2 separate regions of the Homo sapiens genome follow, and region 2 is linked to region 1. The links come from fine-mapping of genetic effects on gene expression. Tissue or cell type: unexposed skin. Region 1 holds a variant in brackets; the other region holds the start of a gene. All regions are shown on one strand. Distances are from middle to middle.

The links. PIP is the estimated chance that this variant, and not a neighbour inherited with it, causes the effect.
Region 2: it holds the start of THBD, and the variant in region 1 is fine-mapped to the expression of THBD in unexposed skin (GTEx, PIP above 0.99). The same link has a PIP of 0.9 or more in esophagus mucosa and sun-exposed skin.

The regions. Positions count from the first base shown.
Region 1 is chr20:23,093,283-23,101,385 of GRCh38, reverse strand. No RefSeq gene overlaps it. Among named protein-coding and RNA genes, the nearest start is that of CD93, 11 kb to the right of the region's middle. RefSeq lists an enhancer at 5,098-5,247. The variant C/A (reference allele first, on the strand shown) is at 4,200.
Region 2 is chr20:23,045,094-23,053,196 of GRCh38, reverse strand. It overlaps THBD (thrombomodulin), which reads left to right and starts at 3,525. Exons shown (of 1, transcript NM_000361.3): 1 at 3,525-7,564. The coding sequence starts at 3,693. The coding sequence ends at 5,420.

The sequences.
Region 1 (8,103 bases):
TTATGGCTGCCCCACTCAGCATAATTCTCTGGAGACGCATCCAGGTAGATGTGTGGATCAATCTATTACTTTGTATTACTGAGTAGTATTTCAGAGTATGGATGAGCCACTTTCAACCATTTACCTGTGGAAGGATAATTGGGTTGCTTCTAGGTTTTGGCTATTGTGAATACAGTTGTCATAGACACTCATGCACAGATGTTTGCATGAACATGGAATTAATACAGCAAAGCCTGACCAAGAGAGGGCAAAGGACTTTGGCTGCAGATTCCCGTTTCTGTCAGGCTCCATTTCTGGAGGCACATCAGGTCAAAAAGGAACATAAACTCCTTCAGTGGATGCTCCTCCTCATGTCCCTACTCTTTCTACTCCAGGTATAAGTTAGGGTCCTAGCTCCTCCATCACTCCTGGCTCCTCCCTCATCACTCCTAGCTCCCCCATCACTACTGGCTCCCCATCACTCCTGGCTCCTCCCTCATCACTCCTGGTTCCCCCAACACTCCTGGCTCCTCCCCCATCACTCCTGGCTCCTCCCCCATCACTTCTGGCTCCCCCATCACTACTGGCTCCCCATCACTCCTGGCTCCTTGTTCACTCATGGCTCTTTCAACCCTCCTTGCTTCTTCAACATCAGTCTTCCAGGTTTGAGCTTGGCAAGGCATCAGCTTGCCTAACAGCTGAGAAAACTGCCGTTACTCATCTCACATGAAACTGTGGAAGGACCTGTCTTGCAGGTTGGTAAGAGGATTAAGGGGACAGGGTAAGGGAAAGCGTTTAGAACTCCTAGTTCCCATACATGCCCATACATGCATGCTTTGCTCAGAATGCTTTGGGCTCAGCCCAAGGCCCTGTACTCCACAGTACACAGAGATCCAGGGAAATGCAAGCTGACAGGAAAGCAGCCTCCGTGAAAGATGCAGCTGTGCTCATCCGTGAGCGCAGCTCCACTCAGTGCATGTGTGTGGATTCGTCAGAAAGCACCAGGCCCTGTGTTATTGCTGAGCAGACAATAAGGTCCACGAGACGCAGCCCCTGGCTTCAAGAAGCTGGTAGTGTAGTTAAATGACCTAAAGAAGAAATATCCTTTAGGTTGCAGTCACTCAATAACTCTTAACTCTTCTGCACAGAAGTCTGGGCTGGGGGTCCAGGGCCATTCAGGCCTCCCTGAAGTCCCCTGCAGTGCCTGTGCTGTTACTGTCCTATGCTGGGGATCTGGTGTGCACAGCACAGTGTACAGGCAAAGCTGAGGCTTGCTCTCCCTGCACAAGGCGGGTGGTGAAGCATTGGCTGTATGTGGCAGAGAAGCTGCAGTTTCTAGATCTTCAGGCATGCTGGCCAAATGCTGACACTTGGGGAAATAAAGCTAGTTAGAACATCTGGGACTCTTCTATTTGGCCTTGGGGAAAGGAACAAGGAACAGTGAAGATTCACGCTGTGACATCAATATTCATGCTAGCAAGCTCTCCACCTCTCACTTCCCAACCTCAGTGCTTCTCAGAGCTGGTGTAAGAATCACCTGTGTGTGTGTGTGTGTGTGTGTGTGTGCGCGTGCGCCTCACCCACAGCAAGTCTGATATAGTTGGTCCAGAATGGGGCTTGGTACTATGGTTTGTCCCCCACCCCAGGTGATTCCCATGTATGGCTGGGATCAAGTAGTTACTGATCACTTGCTCCCTATAGCAGGCACTAGGGAGCCAGCAATAGACAAGAGGGATGAGTTTCCAGCTCTGACTGTCTCACAGTTTACTGTTGGGAGATCAATTTCACATATACAAAGTTACCACTATGCTCAGTTCTGGGAGGAAGAGGAGCAAGGTTGAGAGGTTTGCAGTGAGAGCATGTAACCAGGAGGCTGAATCTACAGTGGGGAGATGGGCAAAGCTCCCCAAGGCCTAATGCAGTTAAAAGAGTTCATCAGTCACTCAGTCTGCATGCATGTTCACACACGTGTGTGCGTGTGTGTGTATTGGCCTTGTGGAAGGACTGGGTGGCCCACAGAACTGTGGCTGGGGAATGTGGACATGAAAATAGGAAGGATCCGCTGGGCACGGTGGCTTACGCCTGTAATCCCAGCACTTTGGGAGGCTGAGGTGGGCAGATCACAAGGTCCAGATATCAAGACCATCCTGGCCAACATGGTGAAACCCTGTCTCTACTAAAAATACAAAAATTAGCTGGGCGTGGTGGCGTGTGCCTGTAGTCCCTGCTACTCGGGAGGCTGAGGCAGGAGAATAACTTGAACCCAGGAGGCGAAGGTTGCAGTGAGCTGACATCGCGTCACTGCACTCCAACCTGGTGACAGAGCGGGACTCTGTCTCAAAAAAAATTAAAAAAAGAAAAAAGAAAACAAGAAGGACCAAAGTCCCAGGGCTAACAGGGCCGTGTTAGAAATCTGATTTTTGGCCTGGCGCAGCGGCTCATGCCTGTAATCCCAGCATTTTGGGAGGCTGAGGTGGGCGGATCACTTGAGGTCAGGAGTTTGAGACCAGCCTGACCAATATGGTGAAATGCCATCTCTACTAAAAATAGAAAAAATTAGCTGGGCATGGTAGTACATGCTTGTAATCTCAGCTACTTGGGAGGCTGAGGCAGGAGAATCGCTTGAACCCAAGAGGCGGAGGTTGCAGTGAGCCGAGATCGTGCCACTCCAGCCTGAGCAACAGAGTGAGACTGCCTCAAAAAAAAAAAAAAATCTGATTTTTATCCTATGATCAATGGCAAGCCCCAGCAGCATTTCACTGTGGTGTGTGTGCTTATGGGAAAACAAATGATCAGGCTTCTATTTCAACATGATCTCACCTTACAGCATGGAGCATAGGGGATGAGGCTGGAGCCAGGGGCTGGTCAGGACACCAGTGCTGTGCCCACCCATGTGAGAGGCGGTGGAGGTGGGGCATGGGCGGGGAAAAAGAGGACTGGCCCAGGGCATGGAGCCAGATCATCCCTAGAGGCTGGGAAGGTGGGAGGAAGGATGCCGCCTGCACGTCGTGGATCACTGGACGGATGGTGGACTGGGGGAGGAAGTGGGAGTAGTTTGGGTCTTGGTGACTCTGAGATGTTCTGGGAAATAGTGGACAGCTGGGTGCTCTGATTGGGAGATGAAAGGACAGGCCTGATGTGGACAGGCACATCTGTGAGGCCGCGAGATGGGGCAGTAGGAGACATGTGGGGAGTGGATGCAACCGAGCAGCGGTGAGTTGGGCAGGAGAGAGACAGGGCCCAGGAGGGAACCCTGTGGAGGCCAGAGCAGGGAAGAGGCCCAGGGAATGTGGACCACCTGGTGCCCACACACTGGACACTTCCAGGAGGGATGCCTGAGGGTCAGGGAGCAGAGGACTGATGGGGCCCATGTGGTTGGCCTGCAGAGGTCAGAGGAGGCCGACGTGAAAGCAGCCCCAGGACACCAGAGAGGCAGAAAGGACAGCCATGAATGAAGAAGTGGGCAGATGGAAAGCAGTGGGGGTGAATGCACGTGCTGAGAGCCTGGCTGCAGCAGGAGGAGAGAACTGGGCTGTGCTGGCCTGGACCTCAGCTTTGCCAGATCCTTGCACGGGTCCAGGAGCCTCCTCCATGACCCGTGCAAGGATCTGGCAAAGCTGAGGCTGGACCTGGCCTGTGGCTGAGCTCCCCTGCCCTGGGCTGAGGAGAGCATTAGTTTGAGTGAAGTGCCTACTGTATCTGTTTCTTTAGGAATCAGGTTGCTGTATTACAGGGAGATGTCGACAGTAACCCTCAACCAGAGCAGGGCTGCTTTCCAGCTGCCCCCATATCCTTGATGCTTTTATTTGGTATACGAGTTGTGCAGTTTCCTAATACTACTGTGGTTCTGTAGCCCCTCCAACCTGCCCATCACTTGAGACTGAGTTGAATGGAAATGTGTTTTATAATCTTCTGTGCAATAAATTGGTTTTGCAGTGTGGCAACCCAACTCGTGAAAGTGCTTATCATTTTCAATTATAATTTTTTAGCTCAGAGATAAATTATTAAAGCACAGCAAAATTGTTCCTGAAGATAACATGCTCACATGGTAATTACTCAGGTAAAATGCTGGTAGTCCCCGGGCATTCTGGCTTTGCCTTTCTTAGGAAACCATGCAGAACTATCTCTGTATGACGCAGCAGTGTCACGTTTTATCCTGAGTAGGCAAAAGATGCAGCCTGCTCCCATTGTGGGTCTGAAACAGCTTCTGCAAGTTGGAG[C/A]CTGAAGTGACCCAGTATCTCACCCTGCATTTGCCGCCCACTTTGTTCCCACGGGAAACAGGAAGGTGAGGGTGCCAGTGCATGGGTGTAGATGCCAGGTTTCCCGACTGCTCCAGCGTGTCTGCCTTGCCCTGGCCATGCCATCTACTGCTGCTCGCTTCATTGGACCCCAACGTACGGTGCTAGCTGTTGGAGTATGAACAACCAGAAAAATAAAGGCCAGTCTTCCCCAGGTATGGTTGTCAGCTGTTCTGAGCCACCACCTGGAATATCTGCAGGTGGAAGTAGCCACTGAGCTGCTTCCCTCAGTGTCAGTGCCCGCGAAGGAAGGCTACTCTTTCACCAGAAACAGTTCAGCTAGAAGACTCTTCTGTCTTCCAATATGAGTGGGTGGGAGTGTGGGAGAGCAGAATTTGGCCCTAGAACTGTTGTGTAGATATGAATCTGATTCAGCAAACAGACCAAAGCTCTGCAGGCCTGAGAGGGGCTTCAGGGCCTCTGGGTCAGCTCTTGTGTCAAAGAATGAAATTTTTAGGACTCAGAAGTCTGGAGAAAATGCTTTTGGCTGCAAGTAACAACCAAAGTATAACTGCTCAAACAATTAAGAATGAGAATAATTTCATATAAGAAGTCTCAGGTGGGATCATTTCAGGTTTGGTGAATCCCACAGTTCCAGGAGGCTTTTGGGGACCCGAGCTCCTGCCCTCTTTTTGCCACCTTTCTGAGCCAGCTTGTCCTGACCACAGCAGCTTTGCACACCAGCCCTCAGAAGATCACTCAGAGGACAGGCTGGCCATTTCTCCAGTCTCTGTTTAAGAGCAAGGGGGACTTTCCCAGAAGCATATGGAACTTTCCCTTATGCCACATGGGCCAGTCTGTGTCCCTCCTGAGCCAGGTCCCTCCTGAGCCAGGTGTCAGCTGGGGACAGAAATGTCATCATTGCTCAGATCTGTCAGGGTTGTCCCCTGAATAGGGGAGTCTCCCAGCACGTCCCAACGCTTACTAGCATCAGGTGCACAGTGGAGCTGGTCTTAAGAAGAATAAGGGAGAGTAACAGTTGTAGAGTCTTCAAGAATTCATAAGATGTTACAATTAGAAGGACCCTCCCTGCTTTATAAAGAGGAGAGATGTCCAATATTTTGGCTTCCCTGGGTCACACTGGAAGAAGAATTATCTTGGGCCACACATAAAATACACTAACACTAACGATAGTGATGAGCTAAAAAAAAATCACCAAAAAAATCTCATAGTGTTTTGAGAAAGTTTATGAATTTGTGTTGGACTGCATTCAAAGCCATCCTGGGCCTCATGGGCCCTTGAGCTGTAGGTTGGACAAGCTTGGTATAGGGAGAATCCTGGATAGTTCCCAGCTAACTTTCATTTGAAGAACTGTCATGACTTTCGATAGAAGATGCATAGGCTATTGTGTTATAGGTATTTAGTGATGTTGAGGCTCCCAGGGCTGCAGGAGCCAGCCTGGCGGCACTAAGGAGGAAGCTAATGCAGGCACTGATTGCCACGTTGGGCTGGTTGCCAGCATTGCAAGACACTTTGATTTTTTTTTTTTTTTAGAAAAGCCAGAAATGCAAATCTTTCTGTAAAATCTCACATTTCTTAAATATGCACAATTCACTGAAATATTTAAAACACTGTGTGGGTCTAATAGTAAATGATGAAGAGCTGGACCCAACCTGGGAGCCAGCAGCTGACCTCGTCCCGATGAAGAGACTGGTGTCTGGAAGCTGTCCTGAGGCTTTGCCTTTACTTTCTCCAATGACCAGGCACAGCATCCAGCTTGGGAGACACAAGATGTTCCAGCGGAGGCCTTGAAGAGCACTGCCATATTGTCCCGCACTGGGCTCAGGTCACTTTCCAACTTTTACCTTCTAGAAGGAACTGGAATGGAGGGACGAGATGAACCAGGGCTCTCAGGGGCAGTAGACAGGATTGTGTCCTGCACAGAGGAGTGCTTTTCTTACAATGCTAGAGAGAGGTAGGGCGTGCACAGTGTGATTCATAGTTTCGAGGAAAACCAGACAACATTCAGAACTTCTATGGGAAATGAAGCTGGATGATGAAATGTAGCCACTGGTAAAATAAAAGCAGGCAAAGAAACCCCACTATGGGCAGACAGATACATATACGGGCACCTTCATCAGTGGAACAGGCCAGAAGTGGGGGCGTGGGTGGACGCTTATTGGGTGAACAGCTTTCCGTGCTAGGATCTGGCATGGAAACATCAACCACGCCTTTGTGTATTGGGGGATCCAGTCGTGATTTGAATGCCTAACTAGGAAGGGCTCTTCTCTGTCATTTCACCAGGGGCAGACTGGGCATGTGCCCTACCCATGCTCCTTGCTCCCCACTATTTTAGTGCACGGGGACCTGATGTCACAGCCAGCACCTACCTGGGGGCTTTCTCTGGCTGCTGGGGCCATGAGACAGCCATGTTCCTCCCCTCCTGCTGGTCCCCCCACTTCCTAAGAAACAGATATATCCGGACTGAGAAACGAGGCAGGTATACACAAAGGCAAGCTATTTGTCATTTTCGACAAAAAGGATATCAAAAAGCAACTTCGCTTATTTTCAAAATGACTGAATCAAACCCAATTCTGTCAGCTCATTCTTTATGAGATGTCAAAACCCGAGCACGCTTCATCCACGTGTCCAGTGAGGAAACACCATAATCGGGGCGGCATCATGGGCTGCATTCTCAGCTTGCCCTGCTCCTCTCCTTCTCTGCCCGGACTGGCTCTCACAGATGGATGACAAAGAGCCCTGGAGAGTGGAATTACTCGGCTGAAGCCACAGAACATGGGCCAGCAGTGAGAGCAGAATTCAGATGGTATTGTATCTAAAACACAGGACTTGGCTTCTCACAGTTCAGGACAACAGGGAGAATTCCAGGTTTCTGTGGAGCGATTGAATCCTACCATCAGGGCACACAGGGAGCTCCACAGACAGCTCCCTGCAGAGAGGCAGACTCTGCTTTGCTGATGGCTCTGAATGCTTCTGGCTCCCCTCCAAAGGGGTCCCAGCTTATGCCCAGCTGGCATGTCTGTGCTTTGGAGGTCAAGGCATATGAGCCCACAGACTGGCATATTTGAGTGAGGGTTACAGAGGTAGTGCACCTGCCGTGTCCTTTATCTGCACCCCAGCAAGGAGGGTTAGGTCATCAAAGCTGGGAAGTGTTCTTGCAGGGGAGCTGCCTTGTGCCCACTGGGAGATGGCAAGCCCTGAATGCCTCAGACCAACTTGAATGGCTCTGGGACCCAGCAGCGGGGATGATAGATTGGCATAAAGATGCATGGACAATTGACCACATGGTGCTGAAACCTTCGGGCAACACCTTGATACCAGGATCCCATGGCAGGTAGGGAAAGCTCTCAGTGCTCAGGTCCTGGTGCTGGGCATGAAAACACACACATGCCACCCTGAGCCCTACACACGTTGCCTGGATTCTTGGATTAGAGCCACTGTCTCTCTCCTCTGATGATGTCTCTCCAGCAGCCTTTCTTCTCTGTGTGCAGGTGGGGTCTATCCAGCATTGCTTCATCTCTGGGTCTTTGCAAGGGTGCGGGGACCTAGGACATGCTAGACATTTCTTCCTTCTGGAGGGTTCCTGGTGACTTCCCTGCCAGAGAATCACCTAGGGCAAAAATAATAACCATAAATCATTAGAACTGTTATTCAGTAAATGTGAGATTGTATTCATACCACTAATCGTGGAACCACAGACTTACCACCTACTATGCCAAGCGCTTTACTGAGTCATCTCATTTAATCCTCATGGCTCTGTGGATGTGACACCATTTACATGTAAGGAAACTGAAGCCCAGAGAGGAACGGTGTTTGCCCAGGGGCACGTGGCTAGTAAGTGGCACATTTTGACTAGTGGTTGAAA
Region 2 (8,103 bases), 48 kb after region 1:
GAGGCACTATCGCGAGCATCTTCAGTGCGGAGGGGAAAGAGTATGGGCTCTCCCAGCGGGTGGGAGCAGCACTGAGGGAGTATGAGGATCAGAGTAGCCTCAGCCACGGTGGAGAGCTGGAGAGATAAGCAGCAAGGAAAAGAGCTGGGGACCCAACTGTCTCAGCATAAATTGAGAAGGCAGGAGCAGTGATCAGGGGAAACAAGACACAAAAACTAGGCAGTGGATGAAGGAGAGCAGAAAGTCAAAGGCAAGTGCATGGTTTAAAACCTCAGTGGACCAACTATTGATACTGGGAAAGATGGGGTAAGGGTCCCTTCTAGAATACTCCCTCCCCAATCTCCTTGGACACTGCTATCACTGCCAGGGGAATGGGTAAGTTCACCAAAAGGTGGGTTGTAAAGAGATGATGAAGACCACCAGCAAAACCTTGAGAATGGCCACTCTAGTGGGTGGTACAAGAGGATCCCAGGGGCCTCCCCAAGGCTCACAGGAGAGGAAGGGAGGAAAACATGTGTCTCAAAAGTAATTGGAGGAGGAGCCTTGAGAATGGTGAAGGGTCACAAGTGCAAATGGCACCAAGGCTTCTAGAAGGATGGCTGAAAACAAGATTTTGGCAACAGTATTTAGGACCAGATGGGTGTTCTTCAAGGGAGCTGTTTCAGGAGTAAAGCAAGTCTGCTGGTGGGCCAGAGTGAGGGTGCTGGGCCAGGAACTGGGCCAAGCATTGGGAAGTGGATGTGTTATCTGCAAAGGGATAGGAAGGAGTGGCCCACCCTGGTGTGCAGGGGGCACAGATAGGAAGATAGGGATGGGGCAAGAACACAGACAGGGGACCTTCAGTCACCAGAAGGTAGTCTAAAATATGCAAAGCCTCCAAGGTATTGGCTGGAGAGGAAAAACAAAGCGGCTGAGGGCAGGCCCCACAAGGCAAAGGTATCCTGAGGGTCAGGGGTAAAGCCCTTACAGGTGGGAAAGCCAAGTGGGTCATGTCCACCCATCCTTGTGTAGGGCAACCCAGACACTGTGGTACCCCCCATGGGACAATGCTCTGCTTCTATCTGTTGTTGCTCTAGTTTCTTTCTAATACAGAAACATCCAACATCTGCACCTCCTCATATAGGGTTGATCCAAGTTTCACAGACATCACTGAGTTCTTAGTGGACTCAGCTATTGGGGCTGTTCTCACACTTTTTTTTTCTTTGCAAGAATCAGCAATGGGTGCAAGTGGACCTGTGTAGGACGTCCAGTGAAACATTGTGTTGGTGAATCAGCTAGAATCCATCCAAGAACTCAGCCAGCCTGGTGTGGGGTGAGATCTGATCCTTGAATGTCCCTCAGTGGCTTTTAGGGCTGGCAGGTTCAGAAGGGCCCTCTCATCACCCCCCCAGGGCCTCATTCCTTGTTTAACACTTTGCTATCACAGTCTTGAATCCTTGTAATTGAACAATGGACCCCACATTTTCACTTTGCACTGGTTTCTGATTCTGTAACCGATCCTGTCCCCCTCTCTTGTCTCATTCACTCTGGGAATTGTCCCCACATTCTGAGACCTTTCAGCAGTGCCCCAACGAGGTTCCTGCCCTTATCTGAAGCTCCACCCTCACCCCCATGGCGGCACCGCAGGCAGCCCTGCTTTTGCGTCCCGCGTAGGCAGGCTGTGCACCGGAGTCACGACCCCCTGATTCAGCCTAGGCAGCCACAGCTTGACTGCTCCCGCCGGACAAGCCCTACTGTGCTATCTGCCGCTCTTCCCTTCCTCTTCCCAGGGGGTCCGCGTCAGGGGAGGCGCAGCTGTGTGCATTCCGGGAGCTTCAGACCCCCGTGTCCAGCAGCTCCTTCGTTTCCTGGGTGCTGGGGCGGCCTTCCCAGCGAAGAGCTCAACTCAGCGGGACGTTTGGAGGCTCTCTGCCCCAAGGCGCTGGGGAGTGTGCGGCGGGACAGTCGTGCTTGCCTTTTTCACTTTCAGAGTGTCCACGCCCCACCCGTTTGGTCACTGCAGGTCAGTCCAGTCCAGCCCGGCCCACCCCACCGGTGCGTGTCTGTCGCACGTGGCAGACGCCATACTCTCTGTTCTTGTTTAAAGCCCAGGATCTACTGGGCCCTGGAGGCAAGAGGTGAACGCAGCGGAATCCACGCTGAGCTGCCCGGGAACGGAGCTTCCAACCCCAGAAGGAGGACTCTGTGCTCCTACACCTTAACCCTTTTTAGCCCGAAACTTCTCCAACTTCCTTGGCTTTGTTTAGAGCTCGACAGCGCCGCCCCCTGGCGCTCGTTGTGAGGACAGTAGAGGAGAGAGGCAAGGGTGTTTTTAAACAGTTTGCCTCTCACCATTATGGGGGCGACCCGAGGGGGAGACCCACTCTTCCGCATTCCCGGTAAGTGAACCACCGGAAGAGGTCGAAAGTGACGGATTCCCATGTCCTCCTCCAGCCCCCCCCCCACCCTGCCCATCCACAGGACGGTGGCTCTTCAGTGCCCTTTGCCGAGCAAGTGGCGTTTCTATGCACGTGGGTATCAATTCGGACTCTGGACGAAATGGAAACCTCCTTAGCCGACCCGGGTGGGATCAGCTGGGATCCTGCGCGCTCCCCTGGGGGGTTGCCAGCCACTCTGTTGGGGTGCAAGAAGCACCATCCTTCGGAAGCTGGGCCGAAACTGGCCAGGCTGACTCGCTCCCACGCGCCCGCCCCTACCCGGCGCCGCAGCAATTCACCTGCCACCGCCTCTGAGCCGGGTCCGGACTTCGGCGCCCTGACAGTGTCCCCGCGACTTCCCCACCCGATGAGATGGGGTCTGGCGTTGGCCAGTGCGTGTCCAGGGACTCGCGGGTCCCTGGCCAGCCATGGGGCAGAGGGCGCTGGTGTTAGGCCAGTCTTCCCCACCCTGCCCCGTCACCCCAGCCACACCCACTGTCCTGTGAGGCCAAGCGCGCTCCGCTGGTTTCCTGAGCCAGGCACCTTGGCCGCGGACAGGATCCAGCTGTCTCTCCTTGCGATCCTGTCTTCGGGGAAGTCCACGTCCTAGGCAGGTCCTCCCAAAGTGCCCTTGGTGCCGATCACCCCTCCCAGCGTCTTGCAGGTCCTGTGCACCACCTCCCCCACTCCCCATTCAAAGCCCTCTTCTCTGAAGTCTCCGGTTCCCAGAGCTCTTGCAATCCAGGCTTTCCTTGGAAGTGGCTGTAACATGTATGAAAAGAAAGAAAGGAGGACCAAGAGATGAAAGAGGGCTGCACGCGTGGGGGCCCGAGTGGTGGGCGGGGACAGTCGTCTTGTTACAGGGGTGCTGGCCTTCCCTGGCGCCTGCCCCTGTCGGCCCCGCCCGAGAACCTCCCTGCGCCAGGGCAGGGTTTACTCATCCCGGCGAGGTGATCCCATGCGCGAGGGCGGGCGCAAGGGCGGCCAGAGAACCCAGCAATCCGAGTATGCGGCATCAGCCCTTCCCACCAGGCACTTCCTTCCTTTTCCCGAACGTCCAGGGAGGGAGGGCCGGGCACTTATAAACTCGAGCCCTGGCCGATCCGCATGTCAGAGGCTGCCTCGCAGGGGCTGCGCGCAGCGGCAAGAAGTGTCTGGGCTGGGACGGACAGGAGAGGCTGTCGCCATCGGCGTCCTGTGCCCCTCTGCTCCGGCACGGCCCTGTCGCAGTGCCCGCGCTTTCCCCGGCGCCTGCACGCGGCGCGCCTGGGTAACATGCTTGGGGTCCTGGTCCTTGGCGCGCTGGCCCTGGCCGGCCTGGGGTTCCCCGCACCCGCAGAGCCGCAGCCGGGTGGCAGCCAGTGCGTCGAGCACGACTGCTTCGCGCTCTACCCGGGCCCCGCGACCTTCCTCAATGCCAGTCAGATCTGCGACGGACTGCGGGGCCACCTAATGACAGTGCGCTCCTCGGTGGCTGCCGATGTCATTTCCTTGCTACTGAACGGCGACGGCGGCGTTGGCCGCCGGCGCCTCTGGATCGGCCTGCAGCTGCCACCCGGCTGCGGCGACCCCAAGCGCCTCGGGCCCCTGCGCGGCTTCCAGTGGGTTACGGGAGACAACAACACCAGCTATAGCAGGTGGGCACGGCTCGACCTCAATGGGGCTCCCCTCTGCGGCCCGTTGTGCGTCGCTGTCTCCGCTGCTGAGGCCACTGTGCCCAGCGAGCCGATCTGGGAGGAGCAGCAGTGCGAAGTGAAGGCCGATGGCTTCCTCTGCGAGTTCCACTTCCCAGCCACCTGCAGGCCACTGGCTGTGGAGCCCGGCGCCGCGGCTGCCGCCGTCTCGATCACCTACGGCACCCCGTTCGCGGCCCGCGGAGCGGACTTCCAGGCGCTGCCGGTGGGCAGCTCCGCCGCGGTGGCTCCCCTCGGCTTACAGCTAATGTGCACCGCGCCGCCCGGAGCGGTCCAGGGGCACTGGGCCAGGGAGGCGCCGGGCGCTTGGGACTGCAGCGTGGAGAACGGCGGCTGCGAGCACGCGTGCAATGCGATCCCTGGGGCTCCCCGCTGCCAGTGCCCAGCCGGCGCCGCCCTGCAGGCAGACGGGCGCTCCTGCACCGCATCCGCGACGCAGTCCTGCAACGACCTCTGCGAGCACTTCTGCGTTCCCAACCCCGACCAGCCGGGCTCCTACTCGTGCATGTGCGAGACCGGCTACCGGCTGGCGGCCGACCAACACCGGTGCGAGGACGTGGATGACTGCATACTGGAGCCCAGTCCGTGTCCGCAGCGCTGTGTCAACACACAGGGTGGCTTCGAGTGCCACTGCTACCCTAACTACGACCTGGTGGACGGCGAGTGTGTGGAGCCCGTGGACCCGTGCTTCAGAGCCAACTGCGAGTACCAGTGCCAGCCCCTGAACCAAACTAGCTACCTCTGCGTCTGCGCCGAGGGCTTCGCGCCCATTCCCCACGAGCCGCACAGGTGCCAGATGTTTTGCAACCAGACTGCCTGTCCAGCCGACTGCGACCCCAACACCCAGGCTAGCTGTGAGTGCCCTGAAGGCTACATCCTGGACGACGGTTTCATCTGCACGGACATCGACGAGTGCGAAAACGGCGGCTTCTGCTCCGGGGTGTGCCACAACCTCCCCGGTACCTTCGAGTGCATCTGCGGGCCCGACTCGGCCCTTGCCCGCCACATTGGCACCGACTGTGACTCCGGCAAGGTGGACGGTGGCGACAGCGGCTCTGGCGAGCCCCCGCCCAGCCCGACGCCCGGCTCCACCTTGACTCCTCCGGCCGTGGGGCTCGTGCATTCGGGCTTGCTCATAGGCATCTCCATCGCGAGCCTGTGCCTGGTGGTGGCGCTTTTGGCGCTCCTCTGCCACCTGCGCAAGAAGCAGGGCGCCGCCAGGGCCAAGATGGAGTACAAGTGCGCGGCCCCTTCCAAGGAGGTAGTGCTGCAGCACGTGCGGACCGAGCGGACGCCGCAGAGACTCTGAGCGGCCTCCGTCCAGGAGCCTGGCTCCGTCCAGGAGCCTGTGCCTCCTCACCCCCAGCTTTGCTACCAAAGCACCTTAGCTGGCATTACAGCTGGAGAAGACCCTCCCCGCACCCCCCAAGCTGTTTTCTTCTATTCCATGGCTAACTGGCGAGGGGGTGATTAGAGGGAGGAGAATGAGCCTCGGCCTCTTCCGTGACGTCACTGGACCACTGGGCAATGATGGCAATTTTGTAACGAAGACACAGACTGCGATTTGTCCCAGGTCCTCACTACCGGGCGCAGGAGGGTGAGCGTTATTGGTCGGCAGCCTTCTGGGCAGACCTTGACCTCGTGGGCTAGGGATGACTAAAATATTTATTTTTTTTAAGTATTTAGGTTTTTGTTTGTTTCCTTTGTTCTTACCTGTATGTCTCCAGTATCCACTTTGCACAGCTCTCCGGTCTCTCTCTCTCTACAAACTCCCACTTGTCATGTGACAGGTAAACTATCTTGGTGAATTTTTTTTTCCTAGCCCTCTCACATTTATGAAGCAAGCCCCACTTATTCCCCATTCTTCCTAGTTTTCTCCTCCCAGGAACTGGGCCAACTCACCTGAGTCACCCTACCTGTGCCTGACCCTACTTCTTTTGCTCTTAGCTGTCTGCTCAGACAGAACCCCTACATGAAACAGAAACAAAAACACTAAAAATAAAAATGGCCATTTGCTTTTTCACCAGATTTGCTAATTTATCCTGAAATTTCAGATTCCCAGAGCAAAATAATTTTAAACAAAGGTTGAGATGTAAAAGGTATTAAATTGATGTTGCTGGACTGTCATAGAAATTACACCCAAAGAGGTATTTATCTTTACTTTTAAACAGTGAGCCTGAATTTTGTTGCTGTTTTGATTTGTACTGAAAAATGGTAATTGTTGCTAATCTTCTTATGCAATTTCCTTTTTTGTTATTATTACTTATTTTTGACAGTGTTGAAAATGTTCAGAAGGTTGCTCTAGATTGAGAGAAGAGACAAACACCTCCCAGGAGACAGTTCAAGAAAGCTTCAAACTGCATGATTCATGCCAATTAGCAATTGACTGTCACTGTTCCTTGTCACTGGTAGACCAAAATAAAACCAGCTCTACTGGTCTTGTGGAATTGGGAGCTTGGGAATGGATCCTGGAGGATGCCCAATTAGGGCCTAGCCTTAATCAGGTCCTCAGAGAATTTCTACCATTTCAGAGAGGCCTTTTGGAATGTGGCCCCTGAACAAGAATTGGAAGCTGCCCTGCCCATGGGAGCTGGTTAGAAATGCAGAATCCTAGGCTCCACCCCATCCAGTTCATGAGAATCTATATTTAACAAGATCTGCAGGGGGTGTGTCTGCTCAGTAATTTGAGGACAACCATTCCAGACTGCTTCCAATTTTCTGGAATACATGAAATATAGATCAGTTATAAGTAGCAGGCCAAGTCAGGCCCTTATTTTCAAGAAACTGAGGAATTTTCTTTGTGTAGCTTTGCTCTTTGGTAGAAAAGGCTAGGTACACAGCTCTAGACACTGCCACACAGGGTCTGCAAGGTCTTTGGTTCAGCTAAGCTAGGAATGAAATCCTGCTTCAGTGTATGGAAATAAATGTATCATAGAAATGTAACTTTTGTAAGACAAAGGTTTTCCTCTTCTATTTTGTAAACTCAAAATATTTGTACATAGTTATTTATTTATTGGAGATAATCTAGAACACAGGCAAAATCCTTGCTTATGACATCACTTGTACAAAATAAACAAATAACAATGTGCTCTCGGGTTGTGTGTCTGTTCACTTTTCCTCCCTCAGTGCCCTCATTTTATGTCATTAAATGGGGCTCACAAACCATGCAAATGCTATGAGATGCATGGAGGGCTGCCCTGTACCCCAGCACTTGTGTTGTCTGGTGGTGGCACCATCTCTGATTTTCAAAGCTTTTTCCAGAGGCTATTATTTTCACTGTAGAATGATTTCATGCTATCTCTGTGTGCACAAATATTTATTTTCTTTCTGTAACCATAACAACTTCATATATGAGGACTTGTGTCTCTGTGCTTTTAAATGCATAAATGCATTATAGGATCATTTGTTGGAATGAATTAAATAAACCCTTCCTGGGGCATCTGGCGAATCCCAGCTGTGTGTCCGGTGTATGGTTTGGCATTATCTCCTCTGCGAGATATCCAAATTCACTGTAGTCATGAAGGGTCTCAGTTTGTGGCTCTCATTCAAATATTCATTTCTAAACGTCTCATCCAGTATGAAATCATTCTCATCTCTTTTGGAGATTAACAACATCATCTTTTCAATGCACACGTTTCTTGGGCTCACTTTTCTAAGGTGGTAGGGCTGGCTGAATGCAATATGCAGGGCTCGGAAAGATTTTTTAAAGAAGAAATTAAAAGCAAGTAGAGTCCAGGCAAATATTCAGATGCTTTATATGTCTGGATAATGCTGAACTCATGAGTTTTAGTTTGACTGATTATTGTGAAGACCGGGTTGGAGATTTTGACATCCATCGCAGAAGAAGTAATGGCTTTAGTGTGTGTGTGTGTGTGCTGGGGAAGCTCCATGCACAGTGCCCTATGGAGATAACAAGCTGAGCCATGCTCCCCCTAAGTAGCAGACTAAGTCTTTGTGAAGGAAGAGCTACACAAATGGGGGCAGGACAGGTG